4 separate regions of the Homo sapiens genome follow, and regions 1, 2 and 4 are each linked to region 3. Evidence: fine-mapped expression QTL. A gene starts in region 3. Each other region holds a variant in brackets. All regions are shown on one strand. Distances are between the middles of the regions. Region 1 overlaps LOC105375036 (a long non-coding RNA gene). Region 2 overlaps PNPLA1 (patatin like domain 1, omega-hydroxyceramide transacylase). Region 3 holds the start of PNPLA1 (patatin like domain 1, omega-hydroxyceramide transacylase). Region 4 overlaps PNPLA1 (patatin like domain 1, omega-hydroxyceramide transacylase).

The links. PIP is the estimated chance that this variant, and not a neighbour inherited with it, causes the effect.
Region 1: its variant is fine-mapped to the expression of PNPLA1 in stomach (GTEx, PIP 0.99).
Region 2: its variant is fine-mapped to the expression of PNPLA1 in whole blood (INTERVAL, PIP above 0.99). The same link has a PIP of 0.9 or more in sun-exposed skin and unexposed skin.
Region 4: its variant is fine-mapped to the expression of PNPLA1 in whole blood (TOPMed, PIP above 0.99).

The regions. Positions count from the first base shown.
Region 1 is chr6:36,237,653-36,242,912 of GRCh38, reverse strand. LOC105375036 (a long non-coding RNA gene) reads left to right here. Exons shown (of 5, transcript XR_007059564.1): 5 at 842-961. Among named protein-coding and RNA genes, the nearest start is that of PNPLA1, 30 kb to the left of the region's middle. RefSeq lists a silencer at 2,787-3,081. The variant T/C (reference allele first, on the strand shown) is at 3,092.
Region 2 is chr6:36,303,674-36,308,673 of GRCh38, reverse strand. It overlaps PNPLA1 (patatin like domain 1, omega-hydroxyceramide transacylase), which reads right to left. Exons shown (of 9, transcript NM_001374623.1): 7 at 2,298-2,382; 8 at 962-1,087. Among named protein-coding and RNA genes, the nearest start is that of BNIP5, 31 kb to the left of the region's middle. The variant A/T (reference allele first, on the strand shown) is at 2,303.
Region 3 is chr6:36,267,225-36,272,464 of GRCh38, reverse strand. It overlaps PNPLA1 (patatin like domain 1, omega-hydroxyceramide transacylase), which reads right to left and starts at 2,405. Exons shown (of 9, transcript NM_001374623.1): 1 at 1,801-2,405. The coding sequence starts at 2,005. RefSeq lists an enhancer at 3,711-4,297.
Region 4 is chr6:36,290,491-36,295,490 of GRCh38, reverse strand. It overlaps PNPLA1 (patatin like domain 1, omega-hydroxyceramide transacylase), which reads right to left. Exons shown (of 9, transcript NM_001374623.1): 2 at 3,939-4,171; 3 at 2,365-2,430; 4 at 1,092-1,301; 5 at 67-127. Among named protein-coding and RNA genes, the nearest start is that of PNPLA1, 23 kb to the right of the region's middle. The variant T/C (reference allele first, on the strand shown) is at 2,260.

The sequences.
Region 1 (5,260 bases), 30 kb after region 3:
TGGTTGGTTGTGTGTGTGTGTGTGTGTGTGTGTGTGTGTTACTGCGCCGACTTTTGAGACTAAACAGTCTCTAGAGTGGTGGTCAGTTTGTTTTTCTCTCTTTCAGGGCAAGGCAAAGTCTAATCCCTCAGTTAATACTAACTTGGATTCTCGAGATGGGGATGTCAATAAGAAAGATGTCTGGCAGTGACTTGGGAAGCTGAGGGGGGAGGATTTCTTGAGCCTAGGAGTTTGAGACCAGCCAAGGCAACATAGCGAGACCCTGTCTCTACAAAAAATATAGCTGGGTATGGCGGCGAGCAGCTGCAGTCCTAGCTATTTGGCAGGCTGAGGCAAGAGGATCGCTTGAGTCCAGGAGTTTGAGGCTACAGTGAGCCATGATCGCACCACTGCCCTCCAGCCTGGGTGACAGAGCAAGAACCCTGATCAAAAAAAAAAAAAAAAAAGGAAAGAAAGAAAGAAGGAAAGAAAAGGAAGGGAGGAAGGGAGGGGGAGAGAGAGAGAGAAACAGAAAGAAAGGGAAGGAAGGAAGGGAAGGAAATGAAGGAAGGAAGGAAAGGAAGGAAGGAAGAAAGAGAAAGAGAGAAAGGAAGAAAAAAGAAAGAAAAAGTGAGAGATGCCGGGTAGAGACAATTCCTGAGGAGTCTATGAGGTGGGGGTGGCTCGAAGGGAAGCGGGTGGGAGATGAACATCATCATCTGAGAGAAGAGATGGTACGGTGCAAACAGGACAGGGTGGATACCATTCTGACCCTGGGGCACTCATGGAATTAAGGGAATTTGTTGAAAATAGGGAGGCACAGGGCCGGGGGAGCAAACACTATCTTTCCTTTTCTTCTAAGCATTTCAGGAGGTTCCTGTGAAAAACCTACATGCACACACCCCCACGTGCAGCTGCAGACTGCTATCTATACACGAAGTTATGCATCGCAGAGTCGACTGCAAAAGGCTGGAGCCCACACAGCGTCTATCAATAGGGAACGGGTTAAATCGACCACAAGATTTCCATATGACGATGGAACACTTTCCAGCCAAGAAAGGAGGAGGAAGTCCTCACTGCTCTGATACGGAACAGTCACCAAGACATATTTTAAGTAAAAAAAAGGCAGCATGCATAACCAGGGAAATGAAAACTAAAACCACAGTGAGTTACAATTTCACACAGATCCATCTACAAAAAAAAAAAAGCTGATAATTGCAGGTGTTGGTGAAGAAGTGGAGTGAGGGGAATGCTCAAACTACTAGTGGGTGTGCGAATGGTTATAACCACTTTTTAAAATTTTGGCATTATCTACTGAAGTTGACAATGTACTTTCCCAATGGCCTTGCAAATGCCCTGGAGAAGTTCTTACCCAACCCCCGCCATTCCCCCCAACACACACCAAAAGAAACAATTAAGAACATTTGCACCAGCTCTGTTCCTAGAACCCCAAAACTGAGGCCAGCACTGAGGCCAAGCACAGTGGCTCATGCCTGTAATCCCAGCAGGCATGAGCCACCCTTTGGGAGCCTGAGGCCGGAGGATTATTGAGGTTGAGAGTTCAAGACCAGCCTGGGCAACATAGTGAGACCTTGTCTCTATAAAAGAAGTTTTAAAAATTAGCCAGGTGTGATGGCTCATGCTTGTAGTCCCAGCTAATTGGGAGGCTGAGGTAGGAGGATCGTTTCTTGAGCCCTGGAGGTTGAGGCTGCAGTGAGCCATGATTGCACCACTGCACTCCAGCCTGGGCAACAGAATGAGACCCTGTCTCAAAAAATAAAATTAAATTAGAAAACAATAATAATTATTATTAATAAATAAAATAGTCCAATGAAAATAATCATACTATCTCCATGCAATGGAATTCTATACAAGAGTGAAAATGAACTAACTCCGGACATGCGTATCAGTACACTGAACTTCAGAACTATAATTATGGGTGGGACAAAAGCCAGCCATAGAAAACTATTCTATTCATAATCCCAAAAAGGTAGTATACCATATTCAATTATTATATATATTTATGTCTTGTTATATATAATGTTTATTACATTTATCTTAGTATAAAAATATAGTATATTTATCATAATCTATTATAAACAAGTAGTAGGATTATAAAAAGACAAAAAGGGCAGGATAAGCGTAAAATTCATGATAGTATTTAGGGGAAGAGGAGGGTGGGGCTGGAGAGAGGCACATGGTTTCAAAAGCCCAGCTTCTTTGTCTAAAACAGGGCGTGGGTACCCATACTGGTCTATTGTATTGTGGGTGTCTTTAAAATGTATATATATTCTATAACTACTATTTTTGTATCTACTCAATATTTAATTTTAAAATTTTAAATGAGGCCTAGAACACTATAAAAAGTATGCTACCATTTGTATAGAAAAAGTGGACACACACATCACTCATGTGCATAGATTAAAGTGTCTCTGGAAACTTACACATGCAACTGGTGAAACTGGTTTCCTCTGGGGAGGAGAACTGGGAGGCTGGGGACAAGGAGGGGCAATAAATCAATTGAAATTAAAAATCACAAAATTTAAGGAGAAGGAGACAAAGAAGGGAAGGAGGAAGAGAAGGGAGGGTGGAGGGGAGAGGCCAAGTCCTGGTCCCAGGAGGGACAGGGAGCAGAAAGAGGAGGACTGGCCAGGCTCTGGCTATCAAAACCTGTGTGTGCCACAGGCACGAGTGGAGCCAGAAGCCTGCAGTCCTGCCCAGGAAAGCCTGTGTCCTCCGCGCACAACTCAGGCTTAGACCCAGAGAATGCTCTTTCTTGCACCTGAGGACGGGGCTGGCTTCAAACAGTTGCCCAGGTTGACCCTGGCTCTGCAGTCTTTTGTTTCCAGAGCTTTGCTTCCAAACGAGGCTCCCTTGGGTCTCTTTCCCTGGCCCTGCCTTCTTATCTCCAACCTTCACCCCACCTGTGATCCAAGCGATTCCTTTGAAGTTGCTTCAGAGTCTTCTGAGCCTTCATCCTTGATGACTCTGAAATGTGCGTCTGTGGCACCAAGGTCAGCCAACAGCAAGTAGGCCCTTTTCATCTCCTTTTAAACCTTCCCCTCAAGGACTCAGTGTCCTTGCTGTATTGCCTTATCAAAACCTGCTCACA[T/C]ATCCTTTGTTCACACTGGGATACCGGTCATTTAAAGGAAAACAGGCCCACTCTAACCAGGGTCACTGCCAAGTCCCTAAGTATCATGCCCTTGAGAGGTAAAAGCATAAAGCACTAAGGGTAGAATTTTGGGCAACAGCCAGTGGACAAGGACAAAATGGGTGCAATATGCAGGGGTCCCTTCTGCCCCACCGGTAACCATAACACCTCAGGACACAGGCTGGGGTCTGTATTCAAAAGTGGGTCCCTCAGACCGGGCACAGTGGCTCACGCCTATAATCCCAGCACTTTGGGAAGCCAAGGCCAGCGGATCCCTTGAGCCCAGGAGTTTGTGACCAGCCTGAGCAACATGGCGAAACCCCATCTCTACAAAAAATACCAAAATTAGTCTAGTCGGGCATGGTGGTGCACACACCTATGGTCCCAGCTATTTGGGAGGCTGAGGGGGGAGAATCGCTTGAGCCCCAGGAGGCAGAGATTGCAGTGAGCTGTGATCGAGCCACTGCACTCCAGCCTGGGCAACAGAGTGAGACCCTATCTCAAGAAAACAAAAACAGAAAGTAAAAAAGCAATCCTCGAGCAAAAGTGGGTCCCTCAGAGCCCAATGACAGTGATGAGGAGGATGAGGTGGGAAAGGTAGTGTTACTCTGAACTAAAAAGGACTGCCCAGTGTGACCCTATCTCCCAAACAGCCCATGCAGGGATCTGGGTGGCACCATAGTACAGAAGTGGGTGCCAAGAGAGGCCTGGGCTGCACAGCCAGGTGCATACATGCCCTGGAGTCCAGGACAGGATCAGCAGCAAATCCACTCCAGGGAGCTCTCCCCCCTCACCATCCTCTCAATCAGGGTTCCCCAGTTGAAAAGCACCTTGGCAGTTCATAATTCTCCCTCTAAAGCCAGAAAGTGCTGTAAAGGATAACAGAAGCCTGGCTGCACAGTGGAGCTTAATGGAAGTCATTCAACAAGCAGGTCTGGAGCAAACATCATGGACCAGCAGTACTGTGTGTTGGCACAGATGTGAAGCAACTATACTCTGATACGGCTTGGATATGTGTCCCCACCCAAATCTCATATTGAATTTTAATTCCCAGTGTTAGAGGAGGGGCCGGGTGGGAGGTGACTGGATCATGGGGGCAGATTTCCCCCTTACTGTTCTCACGATAGTGAGTTCTCAGATCTGGTTATTTTAAAGTGTGTAGCACCTCCCACTTTGCTCCCTTCCTCCTGCTTTGGCCATGTAAGATGTGCCTGCTTCGCCTTCCCCTTCCGCCATGATTCTATGTTTCCTGAGGCCTCCCCAGCCATGCTTCCTATACAGTCTGCAGAACCGTGAGCCAATTAAACCTCTTTTCTTTATAAATTACCAAGTCTCAGGTATTTCTTTATAGCTGTGCGAGATCAGACTAATACAGGTGGGGAGCTGTGCAAGATCAGACTCATACAGGAGGGGATATAAATTGAACACCAAATGGGAAACTGGCAGAATCCACTAAAGCTAAACATATATCTGCCCCGTGACCTAGCAATTCCACTCCTGGGACATACAAGCACTTATGTCCATCAAATGACATGTACAAGAATGTTCACAGCAGTGTTATTTATAACAGCCCTAAACTAGAAATAACCCAGTGCCCATCAGCAGGAGAATGGATACCCAAACTGTGGTGTGTTTGGATGATGGAATATTACTCAGCAACAACAAAAAGCAAACTATAGCTACATGCAAAACAGGGTGGAGCTCAGAGCCACAATGTTAAATGAAAGAAGCCAGACACAAAAGAGCGCAAGCTGTGTCATTCCATTTATGTGAAGTCCAAGAACAAGCAACACTAACCCACAGCAATGGAAGTCTGGATGGTAGTTACACTTGCAGCAGGGGTCCTGACTGGACAGGGTCATGAGGAACCTTCTAGGGCACTGGAAACATTCTGTATTTTGATTTGGATCACAATTTCATGGGTGGGTACACATATAAACACTCATAGAGATTAATCTTAAGATTTGTGTCCCAGAGTTACTGTATGTAAAACTATATCTAAAATATGAAAATACTCAAACTTCGGGGTCTGTTCCTCCTGCTCCTGACCTGACTACTCCACTAACTGGTCCTGACCTCGGAAGCATGTTGTATCTGCTGTGGAGTGATCTTCGTTCCCGATGCTGGTGG
Region 2 (5,000 bases), 36 kb before region 3:
AGTTCATCAGATTCTTAGGTTTTAGTCTTATCTTTGATCTAAAGTTAGACTAGGAGTAAACTGTTGAAACTTGGGGATAGAGTTTTAATTCATTTTTTATTTTGCCAGAGTCCAGGAGAGTGTTTGGCACTTAGTAGGTGCTCAATAAGTGTTGACTGACTAAGTCAAAGACAGCATAATATAGTCAAAAAGCTATAAGAAGCAGGCCTACATTGACTAGGGCCCTTAACTGTATGCTGGCAACATTTGAGTGTCACGTAGGCACTCACTTGTCTAGTTTTGTTTTGTTTTTTTTCGAGATGGGGTTTCGCTCTTGTTGCCCGGGCTGGAGTGCAATGGCGCAGTCTTGGTGCACTGCAACCTCTGCCTCCTGGGTTCAAGCGATTCTCTTGCCTCAGCCTCCCGAGTAGCTGAGATTACAGGTGCACACCATCAAGCCTGGTTAATTTTTGTATTTTTAGTAGAGATGGAGTTTCACCATGTTGGTCAGGCTGTTCTTGAACTCCTGACCTCAGGTTTTCCACCTACCTCAGCCTCCCAAAGTGCTGGGATTACAGGCATGAGCCACCATGCCTGGCCTGTCCAGTTTTGTATTTAAGTAGCATAAATACAAACATAATATGTAAACATAATACCTACTTATTGTGAGCTATTACACATTCTGCATTCTATGAAGCAATTTACATCATCGATCACATTTAACTCTCACAACTTTATGAAGTGGTATCATCCCCATTTTACAGGAAATGGAGGCTCAGGGAGAGCAAGTGTCCCAACCATGATCCCTGAGTGGAGCTGTGGCAGAGCAGGAATTTTATGTCGGATGTGTCTGTTCCAAAGCCCAATCTCCCACTGCACCCCCTACTCCCTTACACTCTCCTCTATTCCTCGGAATCTCTCTGAACACAGTTCCCAAAGCTGCTCCTCTCCGTGGGATTTAAGGAACATTAGACATGCTCACTGCACTTTGCTGCTTGGTTTTTTGGATCCCGAATGTCTTGGGAAGCCTTTTCTGGTGCCACTTGTCTTTTGCTTGTTCTTCTTGAAGACCTTATTCACCCAGTTTGAGTCTTCAGCAGGGCTCTCCCTAGGCAAAGAGATTAAGTAGATGGTTCATTATGGGCCTGACCTCGGTCCTCCAACATGGTGGCCTGCTCAGCTCCGCAGGTGGACACACCCGCGCTGTGGTTCTCAACCCTGGCTGAGGATTGGATTTCCCAGCAAACTTTTTTTAAAATATAATCAATGAATATTTATCTAAGTAACATCATGCCCATGAGTCAAATGAAACTCCGACTTTTATAGAGTTATATGTAAATGCAAAAAAGTTTAAATTATGTGAACAAAATGCATAACTTATGCCTAAGCTCAAAATTGTTAAATTTATACAAACTCTTTCAAAAAGTTTTATGGTTAAAATTATACTTAATGTGGGAAGCAGGTAAATTTTAATATGCTTGATGTGAGAGAGAGTGCAAACATTAAAAGCAGGAATGCCTCAGGCCCTGCTCTCTCAATACCTGCAGCTGTGGTCATGGAGAAACCCAGCTACTGCCAGAGTGGTCCCAAGGCAGGGAGGGATGAGAGGGGGGCTGGGGTTGTGGGGAGAAATACCCTTGACCCAACTTCTGATCTCCTGCTGTGCCTCCCCCACCACCAGTACAAACGGCATTCAGCCAGCAAGGGAGCCTGGGTAATGTGGTCCTCAGGGAAGTTTTTAAAAAAGCAGATCCCCAGGTCCTCTCATAGTTATTGCAAAGATATAATGGAGTGTATGTTATGCAACCCAGACACTTGATGTGCATAATAAAAAAGATTTTCTGGGGACAGTCTACAGTCTAGTACTATCAGGTCATTATCATGCTAATAGAAAATAGTTCGGAGTAAGGAAGGCCTTTGATAGAGACCCTTAATTCATTTCATGCAGGAGCTACCTAAGGCTGGGAGGTAGGATGCCTGCAGGCCCTCTTGGAACTGTGGCATCACCAGAGAGTAAAATATGAGGGCAGGGGATGCACATTCTTGCACTGCACTCAGAGAAGGAGCATCCCCAGTGTGCAGGAGAAGAGAATGACATCATCACCACGGACAGGCTCCTTCCCCACACACTGCCCTAACTGAACAAGAGAAGGCAGCTTTGTGAGATGTAAAGGGGTGGACCTGGAATCACACAATCACACACACCAGAAAAGGATCCCAGAGTTCCTGGGGCAGCTAAGGTGGTGGAAGATATCGCTTAGCCGGGCTTGCTTCTTCCGTCCAAAGGAAAGAGCGTGCTCCACGAAGGGGAAACTTACGTTAC[A/T]TAAGGCTTGCTGACGGTTTCCTTCACATGAACCAGAGGCACGGCGCTTTTTGGTTTTGAAGAGACAAGAAGAGCTACAGCTAAAAGTAAAGATATAGGAAACGGGAGTGAGATGGGGAGGGGGGATATGGAGTCATTTTTGAAATAGCAATAGTCAGTAAATGAGAATGTTTAAAAACAGCAAAGAACTCTCTTGTCCTCAAATTCTCATCTTTACAACCAGAGTCATGTCGTGGGACTTGACTGAGACGCAGGCCCGCGGCATCTGTGGAGCGGCTGACTCGGACCCTTGGTGGAACATTAGAAACAACTCCCAGGGGCAGGCCCGGTGGCTCATGCCTGTAATCCCGGCGCTTTGGGAGGCCAAGGCGGGCAGATCACTTGAGGCCAGGAATTTGAGACCAGTCTGGCCAACATGGTGAAACCCTGTCTCTACTAAAAATACAAAAATTTAGCTGGGTGTTGTAGTGCATGCCTGTGATCTCAGCTACTCGGGAGGCTGAGGTAAGAGAATCACCTGAGCCTCAAAAGTTGAGAGTGCAGTGAGCCGGGAGTGAGATACTGTCTCCTCCTCCACCACCAAAAAAAAAAAAAAAAAAAAAAGAGAAAAGTAAAGAAAAATAAGGAAAAGAAAAGAAATAGCTCCCTCGCAGAAAGCAGCATGTTAGGGAAGGTTTTCAGGAAAATCCCCTGAAGGGGCCTGGACTTTCCATCACATGCTTCATGTAATGCTTTTTGTTTGTTTCTTAGAACAGAGTATTAATAGTTTCATGGCCATTACTCTTAAGTAAGCTCTTTACATGTTTTTAATGAGTATGGGGATACATAATACATGAAGGTTAATATGTAATTATGTATTATATATAAATAAAGGTAATATAAAGTATATGTGGGTTCTTCTGAAGTTATTTTGTTAGAGACTTGTTGTATGTCCCTAACTCTCCCAAATCTATTCACAATGAGGCTTGTCCTTTTGTTTTTGGATATTCCTAGGGCTTTTAACAATTTTCCTGTTCCCCAATGCCACCAATGGCCATCATTAAATGACTGATACCACTAAACTCTAGGGCAGGGGTGTCCAATCTTTTGGCTTCCTTGGGCCACACTGGAAGAAGAATTGTCTTGGGCCACACATAAAATACACTAACAGTAATGATAGCTGATGAGCTGAAAAAAAATCCAAAAAAAATCTCACAATGTTTTAAGAAAGTTAATGAATTTTTTATAGACTGGTGCATTCAGAACCATCTGGGCCGCGGGTTGGATAAACTTGCTCTAGGGGGTCTCAGCTCTGCCTAACTCACATAGATGGCCTAGGATGTCACCATTGAGGCTCAGCTGTAAGCTATAACATGGCTTCTCAATCTCAGTACATGCTATTGACACTAACGGTCAGAAAGCACTTTGTGCAGAGACTTCTGTGCACTACAGGATATTTTTCAGTGTCCCCAGCCTGTAACCACTAGGTGACAACCAAAATGTCTGCAGACATTGCTAAATGTCTCCTGGAGACAAAATCACTCCCAGTAGAGAATCACTAGACTATATATGCCCTCTATCCACCCCCGATATGAGTGAGGAATGCCGACTTGGGGTGCAGGATTGCTCAGGTACCTGAAGATGGCCGCCTTCATGCACAGGTGTGGTTAATGTAAAACAAGTGTTTTGTATTTAACAGGAAATAAGAGAGCAGGTAAAACACTGCGCCCAATTTTCTGACTTTTTTTTTTTTTTTTTTTTTTCCTGAGACGGAGTCTCACTCTGTCGCCCAGGCTGGAGTGCAGTGGCACGATCTCTACTCACTGCAACCTCCGCCTCCCAGGTTCAAGTGATCCTCCTGCCTCAGCCTCTTGAGTAGCTGGGACTGCAGGTACTTGCCACCATGCCCGGCTAATTTTTTGTATTTTTAGTAGAGATGGGGTTTCACCACGTTGGCTAGGCTGGTCTCGAACTCCTGACTGAAAGTGACTTGCCTGCCTCTGCCTCTCAAAGGCATGAGTCACAGCCTAATTTTCTTAATGGTGTTTTGTTTTTGTCTCATTAAAAGAGTCAAAGTAAACCTGTTCCAAAGAAAGGGCATCTCTACCAAGTTGGGGCTAATTCCCAGATGAGGAGACATTGCCGATCTGTGACGTTTACCATAATAGCTCTGGAAGTTTGGCTGAGGACCATGAGCACCCTACAATCTGGCTTCAGTCCTTCATTTGGGTCTCTGTCCCTCTGTCTCCACCCAGACCATCCATGGTGGCCACACACAAGTCCTCTCCTTCCTAAAGTACCTTGAAAGTACCCTGCACATTCCTGCACTGCACCTGAGCATTTTAAATAAACAAAATCGGAAATGCTCTTTCTACTCCAACCCATCCAATCCCACAAACCACGATGTTCAAAATCCTGCCCATTTAAGCTCACCTGTCACCTCCAAGAAGCTTTTCATACTGCCCCAGAGATAAGTGGTCTTATTCTCTACGAATACCCTCCAACACTGTGTTTTTATTAGTTATATAGTACTTAATACTTCTGATATATATATATTTTTTAAATGGAGTTTCACTCTTGTTGCCCAGGCTGGAGTGCAATGGCACAATCTTGGCTCCCTGCAACCTCCACCTCCTGGGTTCAAGCGATTATCCTGCCTCAGCCTCCCAAGTAGCTGGGATTACAGGCATGCACCACCAAGTTTGGCTGATTTTTTTGT
Region 3 (5,240 bases):
TGTGGCCTGTTAGGAACCAGGCCGCACAGCAGGAGGTAAGCAGCAGGTGAAGCTTCTTCTGTATTTACAGCGGCTCCCCATCACTCACATTACCGCCTGAGCTCCGCGTCCTGTCAGATCAGTGGCAGCACTAGATTCTTATAGGAGCGTGAACCTTATTGTGAACTGTGCATGGGAGGGATCTAGGTTGTGCACTCCTTATGAGAATCTAATGCCTAATGATCTGTCACTGTCTCCCATCACCCTCAGATGGGACTGCCTACTTGCAGGAAAACAAGCTCAGGGCTCTGATTCTACCTTATGGTGAGTTGTATAATTATTTCATTATATATTAAAACATAATGATAATAGAAGTAAAGTGCACAACAAATGTAATGCGCTTGAATCATTCTGAAACCATCCCCCACCAACCCTGGTGTGTGGAAAAATTGTCTTCCACAAAACCAGTCGCTGGTGTCAACTGGAGACCGCTGCTGTAACAATGCCGGGAACTAGGCGCTATTAGGAGCTCCCATTTGTGGACGGAGAAACAGAGGCGCAGAACGTTCAATAACTTACTTCAGGCATGCATCATGAAATGGCAGAGCTGGGATCCCACCTGAGGAGCTCACGCCCTCTGCCCCCTCCCCACTTGCTGTCACAGCCGTCTGTGCTCCCCCTCCCTTAGGTGAGATGAGAGCTTGTGGCTAAGGCCACATGACCTGGCCCCTGTTGACCTCCCACCACCTTTTCCACACCGCAGGCTTCGTGGCTGCTCCTCCACCAGGAATTCTCCTTTTCAGGAGCTCCCAGTAGCTTGTTCTATCACTATACCCAGCTCTAGGCTTGAATGTCACCTCCTCAGAAAGGCTTCCCTGACCACCTTCCTGAAATAGTCTCCATTTCATTCTCAGTCCCTTTCCTGCTTTAATTTTATTCATAGATCATATCACTTCCCGACCTCACACTAGAAGGTGCCTTGTTTGAATGTTTATTATCTGTTTCTTTTCTCTAGAATTTCTGCTCCACAAGGGCGGGGACCTTGTCCTCAGTGCCTGGAACAGAGCTCTGTCTAGAATAGGAGCTCTGTAAATGAATAAATGCCCCTCCAAGGTAGCTCACTAGGCTGTTGGGCTTGTTCCTTGGGGCTGCTAGATGCATCTGCTGTCCGGGACAGTGTTTCTCTCTCTGGGTTAGCAGTGTAGCAGTTCTTCTCGCTGAGGCTCCTGGACCAGCAGGACAGAAGGTGAAGTGAGAGCTTCTGTATTCTCTCCCCACCCCTTCCTATTCTTCTCCCACTCTGGGCTCCCTCCTGTCTACCCCTCCAGCCTCAGGGCGTTCATCTTTCCAGCCACCTGGAAATGGTGGACAATACGTCCCCATCAGGGTGATAGAGATTTGAAGAGTTGCCTCTCCCAAGGGTATTTGCATTTTGAAAGAGGCCAGGCAGGAGCAACACTGAACCCCAATGTATGACTGTGCCGTGGTGTAGCTTCTGACAGCACCATGTTCGATGTTCGAGGGAGATACTGTCCTTTACTCTCCCAGGCACTGGGAGACAGAGCATCTCACAGGTAAGGGCACTGAGGGAGAGGGACAGGGGTCCAGGCTCACCCTGCATGTTAGAGTCTGGGGCCTGGCAGACCCCAACCTTCAAACGTCACAGCTGCCGCTATCCTACTCCAACCAGCTCTTCCCTTCCCTTCCTGCCACCCAGGCCTGGCTTTGTCCCCCAAAGCATCCCCAGCCTCCCTCACGCTCCTTCTGTCTCTGTGGAATCCCCCAAGAGACTTCCCAGGGGACCCAGAACACAGGCCTCACCCATTTCAATCCCGCAGATGGCCAGGGCGGCGATCACAGCACCTGCCGATGTCCCCGCAAAGCGGTGGGCTGTTTCCAGCATCCGGGGGGCCAGGTCCCGCAGGGCGTCCACAGCCCCCGCCTGGTAGAAGGAGAGGAATCCACTGCCCGAGAAGGAGATGGAGTGAGGGGTGTCCGGGTCCCCCTTGAACACCTGTTCTTCCATCTCCTCGGCCTCTGACTTTCTGCGGAAGGCGGAGCCACCCTTCAGCACTTGCCTGCCCGAGCCTGGGCTGCCGCTCCCTGTAGGAACTCCCTACCCAGCTTCCCTGCCACCCCGGAGCTTGGAATGTGGCTGTCTCTACCCGGCTGGAGCAACCACAGGCTGCTCAGGAAGCTGCCTCAGCCTGTTAAGCTCCGCCAGGAGGCAACTCCAAAGGTTGGAAAGGGGCCCCAGAATGAGATGCAGAAGGCTCCCCCGGTGTGTGAGCAGGGTCTTGGTCCTGTGAGCCCCCCACTGGCTTCATTTCTTGGCTAGATTCATCTCGGGCACGGGATCCTCAGCCCTCTGCCCATCCATGGTATACCAGGGCGCATTCACTGCTCCCCAGCACAGGGCCATGCCCAAGGAGGCGGGCTCTGCCCAGCCCTCAGCTGCAACATTCAGTTGCAAAACCTCCGTGATGGTTATCGGTGTACACCTCCCTCCCCAACATGCTGCTGCGGCCGTGAAGGGCTTCCAAGCCCGCCTCCCTCCAGGAGGACGGTGCCTACCCCATCTCTTTTGGACGGGTCCCCCAAAAGAGATGCCCCTCCTGGGCTCCTTCAGGCTATGTGGTATGTGTGATGTGTTACACAAGCATTTTTATTTGTTTTTCTTACATAAACACCCCTTTGTTTATTCACTTGTTTATTTACATGTTAGCATTGGCCCTGGGTAAAATTTTAAGAGAAGTGTGACTTTGGCGGCCCCACCCACCACCGCCTCTGCACCTCTCTCTGTTTCTTCTCCTGGGCCCTTCACTGACCCTGTGACCTTGGTCAGTGCCCTCTCGACAAGCCCCAAGCCCTCATGCTATCTTCTAAGTGTGCAGGAAGAAATCAACCTGAAATCTAGATCATTCTAAGTGTGTGAGGCTTCGTGTTGCGTGTTCTTCTTCCCGCTCAGAAATGAGAAGTTTGAGATAGCAATGTTTAACCCCAAGGAGGAGCAGCTGGGGAGGTCACCTGTGGGGACGTCGGGGTCAGGGCAGAGAGACGTTTTGGTAAGGGAGGTGGTGTGAGAGGACCAGGGTTAGCTCCAGGGGCTGCGGTTCTGCCCCCTGAGGGGCTGTATCATGTGGTCCTGATGGGGAGGAGTGGTTCTCACACCCACAAAATGTCCCCTCATGGAGATATAACAAAGAAGGCAAGATGGCGTCTCCCGCTCCCCTCAAAGACCACACAGCAACAGGACCAGAATCAGAATCAAGACACCAAGGCCTCCACCAAGTGCCAATCCAGGATGTGACATCAGTGGCTTCCCCGCTTCTGGGGAGCTTGCACCATTCTGGTGGACTCACTTATCTGCATGGGAATTCCACAGTGAGGGCAAGGCCAGGCTTCAGTTAGGAGGGAGTTTTCTGTCTTGGGTAGGTAATTCCAGGCATATCATTGCCTCAGGTTGAAAAGAGAGCTTTAGATTAGATAAAGTGTGTGTGCGTACATGCGTGTGTATGCATGTGTGCATGTGTGTGCAGATATCTGAGGCATACTGCTGGGGTGGGGGCGGGTGTGTCAGGGTGGAGTCCAGTCAGCTTTTGGACAGCAGAGACCCTGCCCCCTTCCTGGGAGGTGAGGTCAGCTCCACTGAGGGCTTGTGTGCCAAGCCCTGTGCTGTGTCGGGGCCCTGGGGGACAGGAGCACACAGAAGCTCCATCCCCAAATCAGATATTTGCAGGCTTCTTGGGAACAAGACAGGCAAATGTGAAATAAGCAGAAAACTGTACAAGGCAATCTATAATTAAGTACTAAACTGTGCAGGGCTGAGATTCCTGCCAGAAAAGTTAGGAGGCGGGGCTGAGCAGTGTGGGCTGGAACATCTGAGGAGCTGTGCGGCGGAGGTGTGGGCTGCGGGACTGGAGGCAGCTGGGAGGAGCAGGCAGGCACTGGTCGAGGAGCAGCAAGAGCCCCTTGCAGAGAAGGGAAGGGGTGTAATGGGACCTGTTTCACAGGATGAAGGGCTTTGGATGAGAACCCTTCTGAGTCATGACATTGGATCCCAACTCTGCTATTTACAGGCAGTGTGACCTGTGCATGATCTCTCTGGGCCTCAGTTTTCCTCATCTGTGAAAGGGACAATACTGTCATTCCTATGCTGCACAGTAGCTGTAAAGGCTAAAGGTAATGGCTGTAGGACGCCTGGCACACGGCACGTCTGTGGTTATCAGAGGGTAGTAAGAGTCAAGGCTTCTGGAACAGATAGACCCCAGAGATAAGGTGGAATAGAAAGGCAGGGTCCAAAGGGGAAGGCTTGATCCACATGCGACATGAGGAGGAGCTTGGAGAGGTCTCAAGATGCAGAGCCTTGGAAGGAAGATGAGACTGGGGCTGGAGAATGAGGAAGGAGGATGGTGGCCCATTCTCCTAGGATGATGGTGGCCAGGCCAGGGTGGCAGCTGCAGGAAGACAAGTTAATGAAGTTATTGCTGCAGAAGACTCTCAGGGCCAGGGACTGGTTGGATGGGCAGGGTGAGTCAAGGCTGAGGCCTCACTTTTAGCCTGGGGGTAGGGAGGAGTGGGGCTGCCTCCTGCAGAGTTGGGGAAACTGGAACAGACCTGGGGAAGCTGGGTGGAGGATGATTTTACTTTAAGATGCATCTGAGATGACAGCAAGACATGGGCACTATCCATGGGGGGGGCAGGGATGGCACCAGAACCAAGGACAGAGATCCCTGCCACTGAGGCAGCAGAGAAGGGTAAGCAGGCGGAGGAGGGTGTGGGGTCATGTTGAGGGGAGGACAGCTATGGATAAGTTTCTTTTTCCGGGTCATCCCAGTGAAATAGAAAGCAAGGCCACCTGCTGTACATGGGCTTCAGGCACCTGGGGGGCTGGGGACCCACCACCCCTTCAGAGACAGTGCATCCTGACATGGCCCCCGTTGTCCCCACCTGCTTGGACCCGGCTGACTTCCACGAATGCACATATGTTTCTGTTCCCTGTGGACGTGGAGACAGCAATGACGCACAGCCTCCTCCATGCAAACACGCCAGCCAGAAATCCGTGACTATACCCAGCAAGGCCGTGGAGGAGCTGCTAACCTGGACCCCAAAGGCTGAGCCTGGCAGACTGGTCTCCACAGCTGACAAGGGCTGGTGAGCAGCAGGCCTCAGCCTGTCCTCTGCTGGGTGCTAAACTCTTGAGAAGGTTCCTTTCATTCGCCCTGGTTCCTGACCCTCTACTCACGCCCTAAGAACTTCAA
Region 4 (5,000 bases), 23 kb before region 3:
CTTCTACTGTTTGAACTTTCCCTACCCTCCAACACTGCCCTTACCTGGGGCCCCACCGGTACTTACTCAGCCGCCTCAAGTACAAAACTGCATCCTCGTACCCTCGGTAGTAGTAATCGTGCAGGATCTGTGGGCGGAGGCACCAGGAGAATTACCAAGGCTGCGGGGAGGAAGGGAGCCACAGTTCCCCCGACCCAGGGCAGCTACTCCCATTGCTCTTGAATTTTATTTGATGGGCTTTTCAAAACGTACCCATCCAGTGTCCCATCCCTCACTGTCTGCTAAGAAGAACCGAGGAGCAATTCCTGATCACACGCCCCAGTGATGCTCCGTTCATGAGTTACACCATTCATGGTGGAGCCTCGGCCTCCCCTGGGAGGAAAGTGTGGGGTGCTCATGGCAGAACCAGGTGCACTGGGGCCATATGAAGAGCAAAGTTTGGAGCCTGAGTTCAGGTCTCTGGGCTGCCCCTTATTGGCTGTGTTGCTGTCCCCTCTCACAGCCTCAATTTCTTCATCTATAAAATGGGGACAGTTATAATATTGATCATAGAGGATGCTAGAGGATTACATGAGCTACTGCCCACAAAGCCTTTTCTGTAAAGGGCCAGATAGTAAATACTTATTTTGGGCTTTGCTGGCCACATGCAGTCTCTGCCTAATGTTCTTTTTCTTTTTCTTCTTTTTTTCTTTCCCCCATAACTCTCTAAAAATGGAAAACCCTTTCTTAGCTCACAGGCTGTACAAAAACAAGCCATAGGCTAGATTTGGCCCGTGGGCTGCAGCTTGCCGACCTTTGATTTGGGACATGAACTGTCTGAATGGATGGGTTCAGTTAATATTTCTATCAGCACTTCTGGCATCATCTCGCTTTACCGGGGAGAATGTTGAAGCTGGGAGAGCTTGAGGCGCTTGTTCAAGGTCACATAGCTAGTTAGCAGCAAGGCCAGGATGCAGGTCTAGGAGGAAGTTTAAAGGACCATTTGAGGGGAGGAGACTCAGATGGAACTTGAGTGGGCCCCAGTGGCTCTCTAACCCCACCCCTAGTCCCTGGTACCTTCTGCTACTCCCCAGACCCCTCCTGCCTCTCACCACCAGGTCCGGGGGGAACAATGCGTGGGTCATCCTGGCGATGTTCTCCAGGGAGAACTGGAAGGAGCAGTTGAACATGCGGAAGTCGTGGAAGATGGCCGGGCAGTCCCGGGGACAGATGTCCTGCTGCCCACTGAAGGTGGAGATGGTGATGGCGTCGGTCCAGAAGGCACAGGGCTGCATGCCCGTGAAGCCCCCATCGATGTACCTCTGTGGGGGCAGAGTGAGAAATGCCCACTTGGGGCCAGAGTTCTCAGCCCCACTCGGGGTACATCGAAATGGCCCATGGGATATGGCACCAGCTTCAAGGGCCCATCAAGGAAGATCCAGAAGACCCCTCAGGATAAGCCTGGAGACGGAGGTCCTGGTGGGTGCGTGGTGTGCCCCTGGTCACTTAGTGAGTCTGCATTGGCCTCTGGACTCCCAGCCCGGTGCTCTGTCCTGCACTGATCCTCCCTCCACTATCTTAGTGGCGCTGAGACTGGGGCTCCCAGGGCTCTGTGTGCAGGGGACCCATACTCTGGGTAAAGCAGGAGACGTGCTCCTCTGCTACAGCCCCACCACCTGTTCACCCACAAGCCCCTTCCTTTCTGGGGCTTCTGTTTTCTCACCTATGAACGAAGGACAACAAATACTGAGGCTCTAACTCTCAGGGCTGGCTGACATGCAATACAAGCTCCATCTACTACCTGAATCCTAGTCTCTGGCCCTGACTTTCTCTGCATATAAAATGAGGAGGGGGCATGAGCTAGACCATCACCACTCAGAGTGTGGCCCACCCACCAGCAGCACGGGCAGCACCTGAGGCTGGTTAGGGGCGCAGACCCTCAGGCACTGCCTCAGACCGCCTGGATCAGAACTTGCATAATTTTACGAGACCCCGAGTGATTCAAGGGCACATTAAAGTCTGTAAGGCCCTGGCCTACAGGCCTCAGAAAACATCCTCATCATTTGAGTTTCCAGGTCCCAGTGCTTCATCTCCTCTGCTCTGTCAAGTCTGGGAAAACCTGCCAAGCCTATGGAGCCTTGATTTGCCCGGCTTGGCAGTGGGTAGGTGGGTCCAGAGAGGAACCCACCCCAGCTGGAGAAGTTCATCTTAAAGGCCCAGAAAGCCACCTACATTGGGAATTCTGAGTAACAACATGAGAAACTCTCCAACTCTAGGTCC[T/C]CCCGCTGCATTCTGAGACCACCCCCCTGCTCCCCCAGGTGTGAGTCACAGGGACCCGAGGTCCCTTGGATCCCATCTCACCCCTCACCATGCCGAAGCACTCACCACACCGCGGTAAGTCGGGGGGATGAGGCCACAGTACACCGGGACGAAGCAGCTGCAGTATAGGGCCTGTGCGGAGAGAACAGGGCTGAGATGCTGGAGGCCCGGGGGTGGGGTGGGGACAGCTCACCTGTCAGCCCCTGGGCCACCCACCACCAGCCCAGACCTCCTTAAATTCTAGGTGAAGGTGCCACACTGGGAAGCAAAGCTCCGAGTTCAGTTCCTGGCCTGGCCTTCACTAATTGGGTCCTTGGTAACCTGCTTGGTCCATCTGGCCCTGATGTCCCAGCTTTAAAGCAGGAGGGGGTCCTCCATAGCTTCGGGGTTCCTTCTGATGCTGAACTTTCATGAATCCAGTGGGATTCAACAACCATTAATGTGTGTCAGCCCTGGGCCAGGCCCTGGAAGCAAAGGAGGCTGAGAGGCCCACCTTTGGGAGTGCCCTATGAGAGGGAGTGAGCAAGTGGGTGACGGTGCAGTGGGGTGACAGGGGCATGGTGGAGGTGAGCATGGGCACCGTGGCTCCACAAGAGGGGTGCAGGCAGGGTGGGAGGGGATGAAGGGAAGTGCCCTGGCAGGAGGGACTGGGTTTCAGCAGCAGGCAAAGCAGTGTGGGAAGGAGGGAGGGGATCCCAGGCAGAGGGAGCGGCAGGTGCAAAGACCCAGAGGCCTGGCTTGTGTGTGGTTTGCTAGGGTTGGCATGGTAGGAGTGGAAGGTGGGGGAGAGGGCCGGGAAGAGAAAACTGCAGCAGTGGGCAGTGAAGTCAGAACGGGGGTGGGCGTGAGGAGGCAGATCTGGAAGAGCTGGCTGCTGATAAACCCAGGGGGCCTGAGGGACGGAGGTGGTGTCTGTGCCCACTGCCTATTCATCCCTCATCCCCAGGATTACTGCCAGGCCAGTATGGGATGAGGATGGAGTGGCGAAGCCCCTGTATGTGGGGGAAGGAAGGAGAGTGGAGATGTGGGAAGGAGGCCACACAGCTTAACCCCTTTGTCCCGAAAGACACTGGGACCTACCTGCGGCCCTTTCCAGCAATCATTATTCATAACTAAAATTAATATTAATGAGCTTAGGGCAGCGCACTCAGGATTAGCGTGCACTTTTCTAAGTGTTAACTGATTTGGTAACCATTCAATCCCTTATCAAGGGCCACTGGAAGAGAGGGGGCAGAAAGGGGACATGGGGGCCCCTCTCCCCTGACCGTTCCCACAAAGTGGGAGTAATTCTGGGGGGATGCATGGCAGCCCAGCCTGGAAGGCCCTGAAGGAGACCCAGGCCCTCTGCAAGTCACACCTGGGCCTCTGGGAAGCTCCAGGCTTAGCGCAGGGGGCCGGGCAGGATGGATGTGAAGGCCGAAGCATTGAGGGTGGCGGTCAAGCCTGGTTCGTCCTGGGCTTCTGTGTCCATCTCATCTAGCACTGCACCTTGCACAGCGAGACTCTGGGGGCATGAAGGAAGGGAAGGACTAGGGAAGTGAGGCAGGTGGATAAGGCATCGGGTTGAGCTGTGGAGAAAGAGCAGGAGCCGCCCTCCCCCGCCCCCTCCGTGTCCCTCCCTCCCAGCCCAGCCCCCTTGCCTCAATGAGCTCCTCCTTGGACGTGAACTCTGAAACCACCACATTCTCCCCGTCCGTTAAGCGGGTGAGGCTCACATGGAGCTTCCCCGTGGTGACCTTGTAGGAGTCCTCGGGCAGGACCCGGTACAGAAACTGCCTCATCATCTGCACCATCTTACAGGACGGGGACAAGGGCCCCAGGAAGGATTTCTTCACCTCGGCCACACCCACGTTGAGGACTCTGAGATACTCATCTGCAAAGGAAGCAGAGAAGAGGGGGTGGTCGGTGCCACCCAGTGGCCAGGGGCCAAGGGAGGTCTAGGGTGGTTTCTCCAACTCATCTCTGAATCCAACAAATGGGGAAACCTAGAATTCGGAAGCTGGGAAAACCCCAGGAATCGGCCTGCTGTCTTGCACATGACGGAAGCAAGATATTGAGGAAGGAAGTCGCTGGCTCCGGAGAGCCCAGAGCTAGGCAATGATGGAGCTGGACCCAGGCATCCTGACCTTTGTCCAGGAGTCATTACGTGACAGACACCTTCATATCAACAGCTAAAGGAACACTTTAGCCCAACCCCCAATAGCTTTCCCTAACTTCTTGTCACTCTGCCTGGAAGTCCACTGCCAGATGACATTTTTGGGGTCCTGTATGAGATTCCTATTAAAACACTGGTGCAGTTGGAAGTTGTTCCTAAGTGACGCCCTGGGATACTTGCTTGGTGCCCACTGAGTCTGTGGGCAGGGAAGGGGTGCTGGCCTTGGGCCGGTGAATCATGAGGAGGAGGTGAACTTTGTCTTGAAACCATTGCATCATCTTTCCTTTATGGCCCTGGTCCAGGTCTGAGAGGGAGATGACCCTGAGATATGGACTATGTAAGGCTCGCCTGTGCCATTTGCTCAGTGGGCAGATGCGCTATTCGGGGGTGGCAGAGGAGGGTGTAATCTTCCCCACCCCAAGTCCCCAGAACCCCACCAGGGAAGTCTGGGTTGTAAGCTTAATAAGAAGTGCTAACTTGCTTAATTCCCACAACAATACTGGGAGGTAGGTATTTCTATCTTCCTTTTACTGATCAGGAAACTGAG